Linked DNA regions of Homo sapiens. The protein of the gene in region 1 purifies or fractionates together with the protein of each later gene. This does not show direct contact. Each region holds a gene or a part of one and is shown on either strand. Other genes may lie near its edges.

Region 1 (3,500 bases):
CTGTCCCAGCGCCTGCTCCCAGAGGAGGGCCCAGAAGCTCCTCACCTGTTGGTCTCCTGTCTGAGCTCACCCAGCTGGAGGCTCAGGTGCTGCTGGTGGGGCTGGGCCTCCTGGCCAGGTCCGGTGGCTGGGGGATAGCCCTCTTCCGCTTCATCCATGTCCTTATCTACCCCTTCAGTCTCACAGGTAGGCTCAAAGTGGGCTCGGAGCTCTGCAAATCACACAAGACATGACAATGGTGAGCAAACCAGGCCAGTGGGGCCTGGGGTCGCAGACACCCAGGTCAGCAAACCGGGCTGTTCAGAAGCTGGCCCAGCCCGTGCCATGCTCCATTAGGGGACTGCTGACTTTACAAATGGAGAAGAGACTGTTCCATTTGGTTCTCTGCAGCGTAAAGTTGATCACGCCAGTTTCCACAGGAAGAAATTGAGGCTTAAGGATATGAAGTGAACCAAGGCCAGCGTTCAAAAGGTACAACCAGGCCAGGAGCAATGGCTTACACCTGTAATCCAAGCACTTTGGGAGGCTGAGGCAGGCAGATCACTTGAGGTCAGGAGTTTGAAACCAGCCCGGCCAACATGGTGAAACCCCATCTCTACTAAAAAATATATACAAAAATTAGCCAGGTCCAGGCGCAGTGGCTCACGCCTGTAATCCCATCACTTTGGGAGGCTGAGGCGGGCAGATCACAAGGTCAAGAGATCAAGACCATCCTGGCCAACATGGTGAAACCCCGTCTCTACTAAAAAAAATTAGCTGGGTGTGGTGGCGCGCACCTGTAGCCCCAGCTACTCCGGAGGCTGAGGCAGGAGAATTGCTTGAACCTGGGAGATGGAGGTTGCAGTGAGGCGAGATCGCATCATTGCACTCCAGCCTGGGTGACAGAGCAAGACTCTGTCTCAGAAAAAAAAAAAAAGAAAAGAAAGAAATAAGTAGAGCCAGGCTGCCACCCAAGCCTGTGCCGTTTTACTACAGAAGGTGTCTGCTTGGAGTGGGAGAGGAATTAAGCACTGGGGTTTCCCAAGCCTCTCCTGCAGCTGAGCCTGGGCTACACAGTGCATTCGGGAGGGTGGGCTGGAGCCAAACAGCAAGGAGCTGAAGGAAAGGGGGAAACCATGATGGCGACAGAATGGGCTGTAAAGCCTCCCTTAGCAGGAAGAAGTCACCAGAGAAGGAGAATCAACTTTGGTAACATTTCAAAAAGGAAATTGACAAAAACCAAAAACTTCTGTAACTACTACATGATGATTCAGAGAGAGGAATCTGAGCCACTGTATTGTCAGTTACCCAAGAAACATTCCTGAGTGCACGATGAAGGGGATACCAGAGGACTGGAGGATCCTTCCCCTCTGGCCCCATGCTCCCTTTTAATTTAATATTATTTATGTATTTGTTTATTTTTATTGAGACGGAATCTCACTCTGTTGCCCAGGCTGGAGTGCAGTGGCGTGATCTCGGCTCACTGCAACCTCCACCACCCGGGTTCAAGCGATTTTCCTGCCTCAGCCTCCCGAGTAGCTGGGATTACAGGCACGTGCCACCAAGCCTGGCTAATTTTTTGTATTTTTAGTAGAGACGGGGTTTCACTATGTTGGCCAGCCTGGTCTTGAACTCCTGACCTCAGCTGATCTGCCCACCTCGTCCTCCCAAAGTGCTGGGATTACAGGCATGAGCCACCGCGTCCGGCCCCATGCTCCCTTTTGAGATTGTGAGTTATAGTTTATGTGTAGTCACCTTCATCATGCTTCAGGGACACGTAAATACAGCACCACGAGATGCTCTCAGAACTACAGAATCAGCCCCGGAAGAAGTCTATGACAACATGCATTTAATTCCAAGGAAGTAGATAACCAAGATGGAAAAGAGAAAAGCAACAACTGTTGAATGAAGAGGATATTTCTTATCTTTTCACGGCCTAAAGCTGACCTTGACCACAAAGGGGGCGCTCACCTGGGATGAGAATGGTGACCGCGGCCTGCACCGCTCGGCGGATGATGTTGTCCATCGCGAACATCCAGTGGGGCCTAATTAAGTGGTTCCTCAAAATTTTATTTACCTAAAAAAAAAAAAAATAATAAAATAAACTAAAATCACAAAAATCCAGATTTCCAGTGCATTGCACGGAGAATCACGGCAACCTACACTCATCCTCTTGGGGGCCGCATGCAATCAGCCAGTTCACCCAGATGCCATTTCCTGGACTTCATTGTTTAGGAGGAGCTGCTGAAGCTTGGGATTCAGGTGTATACAGTTAAGAAGAGATGGGGGCTATGGGAGGAGGTGGTAACTGAATTCCAAGATCTGGTGTGTTCCCTAGGGCCAGATGGAGCACTTACGGCATCCTGAAATCCGAACAGCACCAGGTGAATCTGACTGATGGACGAGCTGTCAAAGTCCAGGTCCACCTTGAGCTTTGATATTGTGGTCGCCATCACCCGGTGCTCTGGGGAGCGGATGAAGTCCCTCAGGATCCCAATGATTTGCTTGATGTGTCCAACTGAGAGATGCAACTCTTCGGAACTCTGAAAACACACACAAATCATTTTCATTGAGTCAGATTGAGAGAGCGAGAGTTCAGAACACACTGGGGGAAACAAGATGGTCCATTTGCTAAGAAACTTGTGGAACTCCCAGGTGAGAAGGGGTCTCTGTTTGTTCCCTCCATAACCTTCCTGTCAGGGTCCTGGCCCCTTCTCCCTGGTGGGTGTACAGCTAAGCCCCTCTGTGAATGGCTTCCTGTTTAACCCCTTGTAAGAGCCCCCATCAAGGCCATAGACATAGTTCAGAGCGGAGCAGCGGCCTCTTCCTAAAAGGCCCTTTTCCATCTGAAATAAGGGAGGGGGGCCGGGCACGGTGGCTCACACCTGTAATCCCAGCACTTTGGGAAGCCTAGGCAGGCAGATCACCTGAGGTCAGGAGTTCAAGACCAGCCTGGCCAACAAGGCGAAACCCCATCTCTACTAAAAATACAGAAATTAGCTGGGTGTGGTGGCAGGCGCTGTGTAATCCCAGCTACTGGAAAGGCTGAGGCGGGAGAATCACTTGAACCTAGGAGGCGGAGGTTGCAGTGAGCCAAGATCACACCGCTGCACTCCAGCCTGGGCGACAGAGTGAGACTGTCTAAAAAAAAAAAAAAAAAAGATTAAAAAACAATAATAAATAAACTGAAATAATGGAGGGGAATCGGTTTGCCAGTCCTGTGCCCTAGTTCAAAATCAGTTATTTTCACCCATAACCACCCTCCCCAAGGTGGCTGTTCTCCCAGCTTCTGAGGGCAGCTCTAGCGTGTCCTACAGCTGGGGATTAACTCCAGGACTCAAAACCGGATCATGAGAGGCCAGAGAAGGTGCTTCGGGCTTTCTGCTACAATCTGGCTGGTTTTCACCAGGGGGCAGCACCGCCCCACCAGTGCCTGGAATCACTGCGGTATCTGCAAATTCATGTTTCGGCAGAGCTTTTTTTCTTTGTATTTTCTTTTGTTTTGTTGGGGAAGGGAAGGA
Region 2 (4,221 bases), on another chromosome or scaffold:
CCGCCTGCCTCGGCCTCCCAAGTGCTGGGATTACAGGTGTGAGCCACAGTGCCTGGCTGGTTTGAATTTTTAAATGATGATGAATTCATGTATGACTGATGTGATTTTTATTAGAAAGAGAAAACTAGGCAGCGCCCCATCCTACGTCTCCTTCCTGGTGGCCAATGAAGCATTTCCCACGACTCACTCCTGGCACCAGCAGGAAGTCAGAGACTCAGCACCCAGGGGCTGCTTTTTTTTTTTTGAGACAGGCTTGCTCTGTCACCCAGACTGGAGTGCAGTGGCGGGATCTCAACTCACTGCAACCTCCACATCCCGGAGCATGCCTCAGACTCATAAGCAGCTGGGATTACAGGCGTGAGCCACTCTGCCCGGCTAATTTTTGTATTTTTAGTAGAGATGGGGTTTCACCATGTTGGTCAGGCTGGTCTCGAACTCCTGACCTCGGTAGATCCGCCCGTCTCGGCCTCCCAAAGTGCTGGGATTATAGGCGTGGGCCATCACACCCAGCCAACCAGGGGTTCATTTTTTAAAGATAAGAGTGCAGGCTGCGTAAGCTACTATCCATGTCGTTACATACCGGGCCGACATGTACCTAGGCGGGAGGGAGACTGAACCAGTGAAATTCTAATGACAAAAAAAGAAATCAGAGTCATCCCCTACATTCACATCTCCAACGCCCAGCTGGAAGGCACAGGCTCTCCCCACTGCTGTCCTGCTACGATTTTTCCCGGCTTTGACCTGCATGGTGGTGCGGCTGCTCGACTCAGAGCCTCAGAGAAACCACACAGAGCCCTGCTGAGTCTTGCCCTCGGGGCATTCTCACATTTATGAAGAAATGCCTCCCCCTCCCCCTCCCCCCCAAAGTACGGTGTGGCAGAAAACAGCGCCAACAGGTCCTGCCAGTCAGAAGCCACTCCCCTGATTTCATGGCTCAAGACCCCAACTATAAATTAGCCCTTCCCACCTTGAATGTGTACACACACTATTGAGATGCAGGCCGATCCATGCCATGGGATGAATCTGAGAATTGCCAAGACCCACCTTCCCACGCCACCCAACCAAATCATGTGGCATCTGCTACAAGTGATTTTCCCCCTGAAATCCCACAAGAAAACTATTTTGAGGCCGGGCACGGTGGCTCACGCCTGTAATCCCAGCACTTTGGGAGGCCGAGGCGGGCGGATCACAAGGTCAGGAGATCGAGACCATCCTGGCTAACACGGTGAAACGCCGTCTCTACTAAAAATACAAAAAAAATTACCCGGGCGTAGTGGCGGGCACCTGTAGTCCCAGCTACTCGGGAGGCTGAGCCAGGAGAATGGCATGAACCTGGGAGGCGGGCTTGCGGTGAGCCGAGATCGTGCCACTGTACTCCAGCCTGGGCGACTGAGCGGGACTCAGTGTCAAAAAAAAAAAAAAAAAAGAAAGAAAAAGAAAAAGAAAACTATTTTGAAAAGCAGTTATCTCTGGCCTGGTGAAGAACACACCAGCACCATGCCCACCAAAACAGGAGCCCCATGGCTGTTTCCCAGAGAAACCTGGGACCCGCACGTCCATTCACTGCAACACAGACTGAATCTGCAGCCAAGCTCCGCTCTCTCACTACTGGGAACCCTCAGGGGGGATCCCTTAGCCTAAATCAGCACCAGTCACTACCCGCACACGATGTTATTACTACTGTTTTCTTATGAGTCAGCCCGTGTCACTGATTCCTGACGAGCTGGTGTGGAGAGCAGAAATGAATGATTTTTTTTTTAACTGCAATTTCCTTCTCACCAACCAGTCAGCAATCGGAGCTCTAACAGTAAACCGATTGCTCAGTTACTCCACGTGGGTGCCACGCAAGAGGCTGGGAGTATTGCTCAGCGGGGCCAACGGGAGGGTGGCACTTGCCTAAACCGCTTAAGTGGGGGAATGGAATGCCCACCGAAGGGCAGGGCAGGGACCCTGCTGTCCCGTCACTGAAGATATTCCCAGCCTGTGGGGAGAAGTGTAAAAGAATGAATGAAAGAAACGCACGTGGTTTCTGGGACCAATGACCTTAGCCTAGAACTGCCGGGATGGTCCAGGAACGTAAAGATGTAGAGATGTGGGAGCCAGGGGCGTAGTGATGCAAGGATGCAGGGACCCAGAGACTACGACCTCCCAACCCCCGGCCCGCGCCCCGTACTCACGCACGCAGAGGCAGGCCACGAGCTTGGCTGCCTCCTCGGGCACCGGGCAGGTGGGGAAGAGCGGCTTGAGCAGGTAGGTGGCGAAGACCAGGGCCACGATGTACTGCGATGAAGGCCGGATGATGAGCAGCTCGATCCAGAGCTTGAGGAAGGCGGGCAGCGAGCCGTAGACCTCCAGCATGTAGGCGTAGTCGCCGCCCGATTTGGAGATGGTGGTGCCGAGCTCCGCGTAGCAGAGCGCGCCCACGATGGAGAAGACGCCGCACGCGGCCCACACCACCAGCGCCAGCCCCGGCGAGCCTGCCTCCTTGAGCACGCCCGTGGGCGTCACGAAGATGCCCGAGCCGATAATGGTCCCCACGATGATGGCCACGCCGTTGAGCAGCGTGATGTTCCGCTGCAGGGTCACGCCCTCGCCCTCGCCTGCCGGCGCCGAGCCGTCCGCGCTCTTGGCGGCCAGCATCTTCTCCCGCGCCTCTTCCTTCTCCTCGGCCGCCGGCGCCGCTAGCGCGCGCCGCTTCGGGCCCGCACCCGCCATGCTCTGCGCACCGGCCGGGCCTGGGACACCCGGGAGCCGCGGCCCAGCGAGCAGTGTGCGCGCCGCCCGCCGCCCGCAGCTGCGTCAGGAACCCCGCCCGCGCCGCCTTTTAGGCCCCGGCCCGCCGGCCCCGCCCACCGTCCGCGGCTCCTCCCCGCCCCGTGGCCCGGCCCCGTCCCTCAGCCCCGCCCCCTCGGCCCAGCTCGGAGCACGTGCGTCGTCCGGCCCAGCCTGGCGGGCTATTCCCAGGCCCGCGTGGTCCTCGAAGGCCCCAGTCCTCCTGCGCCATGGAGACCCCGGCCTCGCGACCTCCCCCCTCCCGGCGCCCGCGTCATCCCAGCCCGTCCTCCCGGATGCGCCTGGGCGGGGCCTGGCAGTCAGGGCGCGCCCCTTCACCCACTGGCCCGCAGCCTCTCGTCAAGCCTGGGAGCGGGCAGTGCACCAGGGCTGGCCTGAGGCCAAGGATGGAGTTTGGGGTACCCCCCGAAGGGAACCTAGGCTCCTGTCCCGGATGGGCCGAGGGGATGGAACCGCCCCCACAACCAGCTCCTGGGGCACGGGGGAGGGATGAGAGGATGACCTGAGGGGAAGCTCCTGCAGCCTCCTTCCAGCCTGGGGGCTGCATCAGTGGGGCTGGTGAGCCGCGAACTGGGACGAGGGAAGAACCGAACCGAGGCCACCCAGTAATTCCCATTGTATCCCAAAAGAATCTTGCCAAAGACGGCGATCCGGTGCCCGTAGCTTTGAGAAGCAGTAATAACACAGGCTTTGGGAAGCCAGCAATCTGCCTGAGCTCAATTTAATCAACAGAACCGGGGGTTCGCTGGGAGCCATAAGACCCCCACCCCCAAATCTACCTGGGGAATTCAAAGGCAGGCTTCAGTGTGAAGGGGCTTTAAAGCTTGTTATTCCTAGGGAATGCGAGAGGCATCTTAGCTAAAAAGGGTTGAGAGGTAATTTCAGTTAGAGGCGAGAGCAGGATGCCAAGGCTCCTAGGCCTGGAAATGGGAAGGAATATAAATACTGCCCCGAGATTGACCAGACTGGTGAGCGGCCAAAGACCTGTTCAAAGGGTGTGTGTGGGTCAGGGAGGAAGCTCCTCAGTATCACCCCACCCCGGGGTTCCTTGGCGTGTGTGCAAACGAGTCCTTGGAAGCTCACAGCAGGCATGTGGGGAGGCCTTTGTTCTGGGTGAGCGTTCAGCCTCCCAGGGCAAACACGCAAACACCGGTTGCAGAGCTGGGTGTTCACAGCAAGACAGTCTGCTGGGCAGATGCCTCTGGAATCCACAGAATTCTGAACAATAGCCGTGGTGGAGGGGGGTCAGAATCCCTGTCGTGCTGGGACCTCTAGCTGCAGCCAGGAATGTCCAGGCCCCACCCCAGGGAGGGGGCGGCTGAGGAATGCCAGGGCTTGTCATTCTGGACCTTGCTCGCCCCCCGGTATGTCGGGCATTCCTCTGCGGTGATAAAACCGAGCGAAATCTCAGCAGCCCAGGCAGCCACA

The links. Proteins that work in one complex are often made in the same cells at the same time.
Region 2: the proteins of MAP3K15 (region 1) and SLC7A5 purify together in Homo sapiens (affinity purification with mass spectrometry, with the first as the bait; one large-scale study listed by BioGRID). This does not show direct contact.

Annotation. Positions count from the first base shown.
Region 1 is NC_000023.11:19,369,009-19,372,508, forward strand, and holds part of MAP3K15 (mitogen-activated protein kinase kinase kinase 15), read right to left. Parts: intron 2,523-3,500; coding exon 2,337-2,522; intron 2,057-2,336; coding exon 1,951-2,056; intron 212-1,950; coding exon 46-211; intron 1-45. UniProt on the Homo sapiens protein: Serine/threonine kinase which acts as a component of the MAP kinase signal transduction pathway. Once activated, acts as an upstream activator of the p38 MAPK signal transduction cascade through the phosphorylation and activation of several MAP kinase kinases.
Region 2 is NC_000016.10:87,866,708-87,870,928, forward strand, and holds the start of SLC7A5 (large neutral amino acids transporter small subunit 1), read right to left. Parts: upstream 2,801-4,221; 5' UTR 2,716-2,800; coding exon 2,178-2,715; intron 1-2,177. UniProt on the Homo sapiens protein: The heterodimer with SLC3A2 functions as a sodium-independent, high-affinity transporter that mediates uptake of large neutral amino acids such as phenylalanine, tyrosine, leucine, histidine, methionine, tryptophan, valine, isoleucine and alanine.